2 separate regions of the Homo sapiens genome follow, and region 2 is linked to region 1. Evidence: fine-mapped QTL for protein levels in blood plasma. Region 1 holds a variant in brackets. A gene starts in the other region. All regions are shown on their reverse strands.

Region 1 (5,380 bases):
GGCTGAGGCTGGACAGGTGCAGGGACTTGCCCGGTGTTGAACAACCACCCAGGGAAGGAGGCCCAGGCAGTGCTGTCCTCAGCCCAGAGCCAACCTCGCTGGGCAGCCACTCGGCCTCCCAGATTCAGAACTGGGGAGAAAACAAAACCCATGGATGGAGATTTGACAAAAGCCCTGGGGGCTCCGCATTGTTTCTGACCAAATTTCCCTGCCCCTGCCCCAGGGGCTGTGAGAACCCCACTTTGATTTCTCCTGGGCAGAGACCCCTTGGAGACAGGGTGGGTATGGCCCGGGACGGCCAGTCTAGCCTGCTTCTCACTTCACCTAGGAACGGGTCTTTCTCAAGGTTCCCTTTCATTCACATTTACTGTTTTCAAAGCTAAGCAACAGCCTTCATGCCTCAGAGAAGGTCTTAGTTCTTAGTTGGTGCCAGTGTGACCTTAACGCCACAGACCTTGCTGGGGTGAGAGGTGGGTTCTTCCAGCTGCCTCCAGGCTCCAGGTGGGAGTCGAGGGAGGCGATGGAAGGCCTGAGGTGGGAAGGACGGACCTTGTTGGAATGTACGCCGTCCCTCCGCACATGAAACTCTGGCTTTTCTCTGGTGTGAGGTTGGACGCTGGCAGTAAGGGTGGGGGGACTCAGGCAGAAAACCACTTCCTCTGTGTGCAAACAGAGAACTCTGCACCCTCCCAGATATACCTGCCCCAGGTGAGACAGGGAGCCACACACTTGAAGACATGTCCCCTGAGACAGCCACTGGGCTGCAAGCATGCACACACACGTGCACACACACCAGGTCATGCGCACATTCATGTGCACACGTCACATGCACACACCAACACACGAACACACAGAGTCGGCTTCAACAAGCCACAGACTTGGCACTAAGCTGGTGACCAGCTCGGGGCAGCCACCCCCTACCCATGCAGTGGGTGCTGAATGTCTCTCTCTGACCATAACTGGCTTCCACACAGCAATAGAGGACTCATGGATAATTCTGACTTTCTTATTTAAATGTTTTTTTTTTTTCACCCTGCTTGTTTTACAAAAAAAGTATGGCATTATCGTGATTGGAAAATAAATCAATATTTCTTTTAAAAGACTCGGGATTCCATGAGGTTTTGTCTTGACCGAGCTCATGCTTCTCGGCTGACGTCATGGGGAATGGTGTGGACCCACATTGGTGGTGGGTGCCCGGGGGGGGTGGGAGGAGGGGCCGCCTGTCCACTCCACACTGGCTCAGGGATATGCTGGCCCAGGAGGCCACTTCCCTGTCCCCACCCCCCCGCAGGCTCTGGTCCTCAGGCAATGGGGAAAGGGGCAGGAGGCGGTGGAGGCCCCTTTGTCCTGCCTTCCTTCCTCCACCATCCCCTTCAGCTCCACTCCCCCGACCCTCTGCCCTCCTGCAGCACAGACTCTCCCTGACGGCTGCCCGTCCTCAGCCTGTGGCACAGGAGTCTGGAGAGGGGCCGGCACCTTCCTCAGAGCCTCTTGCTCAAGTCTTTCCTTTTGTCATCCACAGAGAGCCCAGTCACAAGGGGTCTCCGGCCGAGGCAGCTCAGAAGGAAGCCAGCCTGGTGGCAGGGGCAGGCGTGCAGGGCGTCCCAGACTGACGCCGCCGGGCAGGGCAGCTCTGCGGCCAGTGTGGCCACTTGGTCCCTCGCCCGGAGCGGCTGACACTGCTCAGCACAGCTGCCCCGAGGCACCGCGAGGGCCCGCCCTTCCTCTCTGCGTTTCAGATCTGAGGGGAGAACATCTACCCTGCCCCGCTGCAGAGGCGGCCTGACCACAGGCTGTGCCGGACCCAGGGATGCCTCCTGCTCCAGCTTCTGCAGGGCTTCTGCTGAGCCGAGGGCCTGCGCCTGGGCAGGAGAGGCCGCCGGTCTTTCCAGGCATGGTGAGCGACGCTTCGAGGCTCCTGATGACCAACTGCATCCCCGGACTCGGGGCCACAGCTGCCCACGTGGCTATTGGTGGCAGCTTCTGCATCCACCTCCTTCCTTTGCAAAGTTGACATGGAGAGAAACTGGAGCCAGCCCAGCTGCCCCTGCCCCAAAGGTGGACAGGGCTGACGATGACAGACACGGAGCACACGGCCAGCGCCGCGCTCGGCACCGTGTGGCTCCACGGATCTCCAGGGCCGGCCGGAGGGAAGCGTGGGAGGATGGGAGAGGCCACGGCTCGCTGAGTGTCTGCAGGAGCTGGGCCACGTTGAGAGGACGCAGGGACGCTTTGTGCTTTGTTCCGCTGCCCCGTCCCCTCTGACGTTCCCTGTGGTCAGAGCAGCAGAGGTTTTCTGAGTTTGGACACGTCTGCCAGAGAGGCCAGCAGTCACACTGGAAAAGTTCTCGGGTGGCCAGTTTTCTAAGGGTCCTCAGATCACAATACCCTAGCCGAACCAGACCACAGGCTCCAGAGAGGGCGGCCTTGTGGCTGCCGGGTGTCCTGGCTGACTGCAGGCCCCGCCGGGCAGCAGGGTGCCGGGTGCGGCTGAGGTTCCAGGGCCTGTTTCATGCCCAGCACAGGGATGTTCCATTTGCTAGTGACTGCGCTTTAGGTGGGTGCTTAGAAGAGGGGGTTGCCGATGTGAGCAAATGTGCTGCTGCTGAAATATCCTGCATGAATGTGAACTCCACACAGGCCCCTCCCACACTCTGCAGGCTGCCCCTGGGGTCCTGCCTGTGCAGTGGGGTTCATTCAGCTCCCTGTTTGCCATCCAGACAGTATTAGGCCTAGGTGTGGCTGCAAGGGCGCAGCCAGGCTGTCCCTAGGAAAGACGCCCCTTTATCCACACCATGTGGGAGATGGCCCATGGGGAGGATTTGGGATGCTGGAGGAGATGCAGCATGGCCTTGAGGGGGTCTTCTCTGCCCCAGGCAGGGTGGGAGGCTGGAAAACCAGGCGAGGACGGTAAGGCCAGGCTATGATAGGGCTTTAGGGACCTGGGTGGGGTTGGGGAAATGGCCATGAGAATGAGAAGAAGCCTTCACACTGTCTCAGACTTGAATTAGGAATGACCCCAGACACAGTTCTTGGTTACAAGCCCCTGCCCTGCCCTCCCTCCTTTTCAGATGAGAGGGTCCCATGGCCTGCTAGCAATGATCGCTGACCTAGAGCTCCCGGATGCACGGACTTCACGGTGTTGGAAAAGTGCGTGTGCTCATGTGCATGAGTGTATGGGTCTGTGTTCCTGTTTGTGCCTGGGTGTGTTTACACAGTGGTTATGCACATGTGCCTGTGCACGTGTGTGCATGTGCATATGCTCGTGTTCACAACTGTGCGTTTGTGTGTGCATATGTGTGCGTGTGTGTGCGCGTGTGTGC[A/G]TGTGTGTGCGTGTGCGTGTGTGCGCGCGTGTGTGTGTGCATGTGGGTGAACAAGGGCTACTTCCCCTGCTCCGGGAGCTCTGTGGATTCATCTGGGGTCAATGCCTCGTTGTGCCCAGTCCCCGACCTTTGAGACATTTTCACTGACCCTGTCCCTGGACAACGTCCCAGGGGCTTCAGCGGATTCACAACATAAACCCATTTTTCCTCCCAGAAAAGGAGAGGGTCGGGGCCAGCCTGGGGCTTTCCTGTACTGGGATCCTGTCTTCACAGAGGCACCCAGAGACCCTGTGGTGAGGAGAGGCCTGAGCAAGTGCGCCCCATGGCAGGGTAGGGCCCTGGTGGCCTGGGCTTGGGGGTTCCCTGCAGCCTTCCCGGCTGACGTGCCTCCTGGCCTCTGAGGTGGGCATGGTGGATGCCAGTGCGCCACAGGGAGAGTGAAGCGTGTGACAGACGATGCCATCCCCGGGTGGCGCAGCAGCCAGGACTCGACTGTTTGCAAGATCCAGCCGTGCACAGAGAGGCATGGGGCCGGCCACGTCCACTAGTCTCACTCAGCCCTGAGCACAGGCCCAGCCTCTCCCGAAGCCTCCTCCTGGCCTGGCTCTTGTCTGTCTGCTGGTCATTGTGCAGAGACCACAGGCAGCAGGTGACGAATGGCTGGTGTCAAGTCCTGTCATGCCAACGGGGTCCTGGGGGAAATGCAAGAGGCTCTGAAACCAGCTTTATTACCAACCTGTGGCCACCGAGATGATCAATCAAACGGATTGGTGATGGCAAACACCACGGGGACGAGAGGCAGACGCTGCCCGGGGTCGTGATGGGGGATGGGGAGAAGATGGCGGAGGAAGTGCTGAACTTGACCAAGCCCAGCCCCCTTTAGGGCTCGCTCTCTTTCCATCACTAGGTTGGCCTCAGGGTCCAGGCCGAGGCGGCCCAGGCAACAGGAGATGTCAGACGGGGCAAAGGGGTGATTTACAAGGCGGCTGGCGCTGTTCTCCAGGGAGAAAGGGGAAACCGTGAGGAAACAGGCACCCCTCGCTGGCTCTGTTCACGGCACCCCTCGCTGGCTCTGTTCACGGCACCTCGAGCTGGCTGGGGCCGACGAGCTGAACATGCTGCCAAGGCCCTGCAGCTTCCCTGGGATGTGAACCCTGGGCTTCCTCTAGGCCATGGGCTGGGACAGCTCGGGGTCAGACACCGGCGGAGTTAGGGCCGTGGGGCCTTCCTGCGGGCGGGTCCGGGTCGCTGGCCAGTCTTCATGCAGCTGACTTCATGTAGGTATGAGAGGCTCCCACAGCAGAGGCAGCTCAGGGCCGGGCACGAGCAGAGTCCACGCTCCCCTCCTGAGCTCCCAGAGGTTCAGGGGTGCTTTCCATCCTGGGATGGACCCACAGAGCCCCTCAAGAGGCCTGGTCGCTGCTGGAGTCTGCGGTGCTGAGACCAGGACTCCCACCGCGGGCCCAATGGCAGGCCTGGCGAGGATGGCGGGGGCCGGGGGGCTGCCCAGGGCAGGATGAATCAGACCTCTCTTGGGAAGTGACTCCCGCACAAGGACATTTTAGTCAGACATAATTGCAAGGAAAAATAAACCTGCCTTAACAGAAAACAGCTTTCCAGTTGGTTTCTCCCCCCTTGAAGCCCTTTCAACTCCAGGTTTTGGCAAGTCCTGGCTGTGGGTAATTGTCAACACGACGTGGTGTCCGGAGACCAAAGCCGGCAGAGCGGAAATGGCACCCACGGCGTGAGAGAGACCGGGGAGGCCGCAGCAGGCACGCGTGTGCTGGAGTGCACAGACCCACAGGGCGCAGCTGGGTCACAGAGAAAGGGAAACATGGTCTTGGCCGCAATGTGAATGGCTTGGGAGGGCATCTTCAGACGCTGGCCCCACGAGAAGAGACTAGGGCCTGGCTGGGTGCCACCCACTTCCACGCTGGATGTGCACGGCTCTCCCCAGTTTGGAATGACTCCCCTCCCGCCCCCCTGGCTCTCACTGGTGGTTCTCACGTCACCCTCAGCAAAAGGTCACCTAAAGTCCAGGAGGAAGGTCCCTTTGA
Region 2 (5,380 bases), not on the chromosome of region 1:
ATTTTGGTTTGGTGGAGAAGGCGGTGATGGAAGGACTTTCAGAAGACAGCTGCCTATTCTAACTACATTTAAGTGTATTCTGAGTTAGGCATTATGACTTCTATTCATATCGCCTTTCCTCCTCATGGAATGAAAATTACATGCAGGAAAGATTGTAGGAGAAAAGTATATTTGTCTCTGTGTGTGTGTGCGTGTGTGTTTGTCTGTTGGGTGGTGTGATGATGTACAAGAAGTGTCCTTGTTTTAGAAAAATATAATAATAGAATGTTTAAGTATGATAGAAATTATGTTTTTAGCTTGCTATAAAATGATTCAGAAAATACTAATTATATGTATATATAAAATGTATATATATGCACACACAGGTAACACATATACATATCTATATTTACATCTGTTTGCTTATTGGGAGGATAGATACATAGATGAAACACACACATGCGGTAGATGCTAACAATTGGGGAAAGAGGAGGAGGTGGAGATAGCAGTTCTTTGAACTATATCTGCAACTTTTATGTAAATTTGAAAGTATTTCAAGGTAAATTTTTTTAAAATATAAAAAGTTGCTTTTGAACAAAAAGATTATTTGAGATGTTCAAGCAGACACTGGGTAACTGTCTCACGGGGATATTGCAAAGACTTCTTGCACTGGGTAGGAGGTTTGACTGGGTAATCCATCATTTCAAACTCAGAGCACATGATTTATGAATCATAGGTTGGTGATAGTACAATGGAGTGAAATCTGAGCCACATGCCCAGAAATTTAATGGAATGTTAAGATGTTATAAAAGTAGAATGCGGGTACCAAATAATTTGCAAAGGCTCTTTTCCCCACTGATCCGTCCATCCCTCATGTAAGTATTGAAGGCATGTATAAGAGATTATTTTAGGTTCCGGGTATTCACATATAAATAGAATGCACCTTTTCTACCCTCAGCGTTCTGAAGTGAAGCTATATAAAATGTAGTGGTTTATTAAGCCAATACTAAATGAGCCCACTGGCATAAGTTGGAAATTCATAATCTGGCATATTTTTTCCAGTCTAATTTGGGAATTCTTTTGCTAGATATACTTTACTGTTTACCCTTGAAGATAACTTTGTTTGATGTGATAGCCTGAGATAGTCTGGTTCATACAGACAGACCTTCTCTCTATAGCCTACTACATGTGCATGGTATTATGCTGTAACTCTAATTCCATCCTTAATTAACATCAGGGCTTCTTCTGTAAAAGGAATTAAGAAGAGCTGTCTCATAAATATATTCAATGAGAAGAGAACTTTTAAAGGTATGAGACTTTCAAGGTAACTGTTTCTAATAATTTGGAGAAAAAACACAAAAAGAAGAAAAAAGACAATGTCTTTTTTTCTGTGTCTTACTCTTCTTTTGTAACTCACAGCATCTAATTTTCTAGGCAGGTAGCAGGATCTCACCTGTCAACTCTTAACAGAACTGAAGGCATTATAAACTGTTTCTGAAATTAACATTCAGATTCAATTACTTATGATCCATTTTTCTGTGGTAAAAGGAATTGGTCACATTAAAATAGGATATGTCATAATTTTCAATAGGCTACCTTGTTTGTATTACTTATATTTACACTAAATATAATTTAACATTTTCTTTTGTCAGAACATTTTCCTATTATCACTCAAAATTTAGGAACAATCTTACCAAAAAAAATTGCCTGAAATGAGTCCATGCTTAAATGGAAGAATTAACTTTTAAGTTCTTTACTGATGAGGGCATTTGCTTATACATTTTTAAAGTTTGGAATTAAGTGCACTTTTACTTGAAAAAACTATAAAAGGATAAGAAAATTGATGAGATGATAACTGTAACCCTTTGCTGTGGTTTTTATATATATTCCTAGGCTTATACTTTACAGTCGGACAGTAATGGCGATCAACCTTCTACCAAGACACGTTGGCTCTCATTAATGAATAATTCTCCCCCCACCCCGATTTTCTAGGAGCAAAATAGAATTGTAGAAAAAAGCGGTTTGGGAAAATATTTTAAAAATTTGTGGTAATATTTTATGGACAATTGTATTGTCGTCATTGTCTATTAAAAGAGGTTAAACCAGGGAGAATAAATTTATGGCTATTGCTTTTTACTCCTCAAGAGACAGGAAAATGAACATTCTGCCTGAACTGCTCTAATATAAGGTCCTTACAGAACAATTTCATTAAATGGTCTTAGTAGGACAGAGTGACGGTCTCTGCCATTGGTAGGAAAAGTAATGGACTATTTCTGGATAAATCACATTGTGATCTGAGCAGTGTACAGACATAATGATGTGGTAGCCAAGGGTACTGGTGATATATGTTTGCTGGTGTCAGTAAATGGGTAGAAAAGCATTGATTGAATGATAGTCTTGACATTCAGACTTAATATTTATGTATTGCAGTGTGAAGCAAGTAGAATGATAGTATTCTTGTATTGCACAACTCTTTTTGGAAAATTATCTCTGTGTTAAGTTAAAGCTACACTAGAGTGTGCTTATGATAGAGTAGGTAATATTAGAATAAAACTCAAGATCTAGAAAACATTTGGAGATGCCTATATGGGAAATCAAAAAATTTTAGTTAATTAGTAGATTATGGCCTATAATGATCTATTCTCAGGCCTATTTTTAAGTTATAGCCATGTTAGGACATGGAAAGATGTTAACAGGGTCCTCTGACAAGTTTTTAAAAATGAATTCCATTTAAAGCTATCTATATTCACTTTATTTCTTTTACATGAGTTTATCAGAAATAGTATTAAATTTGGGGATCAACAGATATTTAATTAAAAGTGAACTAAATTTTTTTTCTCTTCTCAAAGGCTATAGATAAATAATACAATGTGCTTAATATCTGATTGCCATTGAGGTGATTGATTTGAACTACAAAAATGAGATGAAACCCATTAAATTATGCAATTTTTTATTAATGACCTTTTTGCAAAGAAAATCATGTAGAGTTTCAAAAGCACATAAAGGTAACAGCAATTTTTATCATCCAATTACCTATGGCTAATAGTATTGTCCTGATATATTTTGGCAAATCCATTATCTTTTTTGCTGGCCTTTCTGCTCAGAATAAAGAACATATTTCTTCAATATCCACTCTTTTTCTTAAGGATTCAAATGGACCTTATATCCACAGGAAACTCCTCTGACTATTGTATAATTTGATGAATGTTGAGAACTCTGTCAATGCAGCAGTGATTTGTCTCTGTATTCTGGACTTGATTTAGCTTTATTCTTTTTCTCATAGGCATTCTGAAATATTTATGACAAAGTGCATTGGTAATCTGATGTAGGAGTCCTGTGAGAAACAAAAAGAACTAATTACTAGCAAATTTACAACCAGTAGCGCATCCTTTCAAATTCTGTGCAACTTTTAAAAGAAGCAAAATAATGGATAAAATAATAATATAAATTTAATACTTTTAAAAAATTCTATAATTGTTTTTTTCTCAATTCTTGCACATTTCATCAGTTGATCATTAACCCGATTGTGTTAGTTCTTAATACAAATGTAGTGAACACCTGCTTTTGTTCTAGAGGAATTAATCAAGCAATGGTCAAGATAAATGGAGTTGGCCTTGATCGCTCAGGTGTTTATGTACAAGAGTTTTCCAGCAAGCGTATTTTAGTTGTAACATTCCAGTGAATAATCAGAAGTCAGTTTGGGGTAAGTACCTTAGAAATAAATAGCTTTTGAATAAGTATGTATGCAATAACATTGCCTATGAATGTTTAGTAGAGTATGGAATGGCATTTCAATTTACTTTGGTGTAAAAATCATTTGAATTTATTTAATTAACATATCGCTTTTATTCTCCTTAAATGATTTCACCACAAATCAGAAGATCCAGTTCTTATAGGACTATTCATCAGGTTGTTTAGTTCAGCATTACTTTGTGCTTTCTGATAAGATATGATCCAAAACCTGATGAGGTAAGTGAGTTTTTAAAACCAATATTTGTCTGAGGTTATAATTTATTAAGTGCTTAGAAATTTTCTAGAAAAAATGGATGTGGATGCTCAAATAATATAAATTTAATTATTAAGATTATTAATAATAATGAGAAGGAAACTCTAATACTGAGATTCTACCACAAAGAAAAAAATTACATTTTTAATAATACTGTTCATTATTCCAATATAAACCAAATACATAAAGCTATATCTAATGTATTTCCAGTTGATAACTTAAAGGTACTAATAACATTTTGACTACGTATCTACAAACACATATTTTGGTCAGAAGTCTTCTGAGAAATTGAATATATTAGAAGATAATGATACACAGACATTTATTTTGCATGTAAAACTTCTCTTACTCACTGGTTTTTAACTATTGTTGCACTCTCATTTATAAGCTCATATGCTAAATTAATCCCTAATGAAACATTTGCTTGATATTAATAGCATATAGGTCTATATCTAAAGTTTACCAACACATTTTCTAACAATTGCTTTGGATTGTTTTTTGAGGCTTTTGTCTTTTGCAAATATATATCTAAACAAATACAGTTTAACAAAATACATTGAAGGATAAATAATGACTCCATAGTTTAATTTGGAACAATATTTGACTATTAGTAATCTTTATATATAAATATAGTTGTTCTTAGGGACTCCTACCATTTATGGTACCCTTAATGATCTGCAAAACACTCTAGAAATGTAAGTCTCTACTTAAGGCTGACAACAGACTATTCTAAAGGCTTTCATCTTTACCCCTAATTAAGGGTTACTTCCTAGTAACTTACTGATGGATAAGTTTTTAAGGATTACTAACATGTATTATTTATAAGGTAAAATTATTGTTACTAAAATTTATGAGGCCTTGGAGTCAACATTCTACCAAATATGTGGTAATATTGCAAAACTAATTCTGCTTGAGATATAATCAAATGGTTGAATTTCCTGCAATTTTAGTGGAGAGCACTTTAATAGGGTATTATTAGTCTTGTGAATTGTTTATGGTTTTTAATTGCTGCTACTCTTACATTTGTTAGTATTTCTGTCAATTCTTTGATATTATATTTCATTTTATTTATATTTTTTCTTTTATAATTTCAAGTTTTATTACAGATTAATGTACATGTGCAGGTTTGCTACATGGGTATATGGCCTGACACTAAGGTTTGGGGTATAAATGATCTCATCACCCAGGTAGTGAGCATAGTACTTTATTGTATCATTTATATTTGATTGCCATTTTGTTTCAAACTTTGCAGGTTTTCTGCATTGTATTTGTCTTCTTTTGGAAAAGCAGGAAGAGGGCTTTGGGTTATTTTGTCCTAAGAAATAAAGCGTGAGGAAAATTGTAAAAAGTTAGCCAGATTACTCAGTTGCTTTAGAATACATTAATTTTCTAATA

Direction of the effects. Positions count from the first base shown, and alleles are read on the strand shown. Strength reflects both the effect of a copy and how common the allele is.
In carriers of allele G in region 1, the plasma level of the protein whose gene starts at base 3,643 in region 2 tends to be lower than with A alone (weak association).

Evidence for each region. A credible set is the group of variants that fine-mapping cannot tell apart. PIP is the posterior inclusion probability: the model's chance that the variant is causal. The UK Biobank Pharma Proteomics Project read protein levels with antibody pairs (Olink). The fine-mapping took linkage between variants from a reference panel, not from the people measured, so its PIPs are less certain.
Region 2: it holds the start of SERPINI2, and the variant in region 1 is the best candidate, but not a certain one, in a credible set for the plasma level of the SERPINI2 protein (UK Biobank, PIP 0.70).

Annotation. Positions count from the first base shown.
Region 1 is chr1:3,275,700-3,281,079 of GRCh38, reverse strand. All of the region lies in intron 3 of PRDM16 (PR/SET domain 16), which reads right to left. It overlaps LOC124903828 (collagen alpha-5(IV) chain-like), which reads right to left. Exons shown (of 2, transcript XM_047436627.1): 1 at 1-5,380. Among named protein-coding and RNA genes, the nearest start is that of MIR4251, 150 kb to the right of the region's middle. RefSeq lists an enhancer at 4,627-5,380. The variant A/G (reference allele first, on the strand shown) is at 3,324.
Region 2 is chr3:167,472,305-167,477,684 of GRCh38, reverse strand. It overlaps SERPINI2 (serpin family I member 2), which reads left to right and starts at 3,643. Exons shown (of 9, transcript NM_006217.6): 1 at 3,643-3,682. LOC105374197 (a long non-coding RNA gene) reads right to left here. Exons shown (of 3, transcript XR_924683.3): 3 at 3,225-3,313.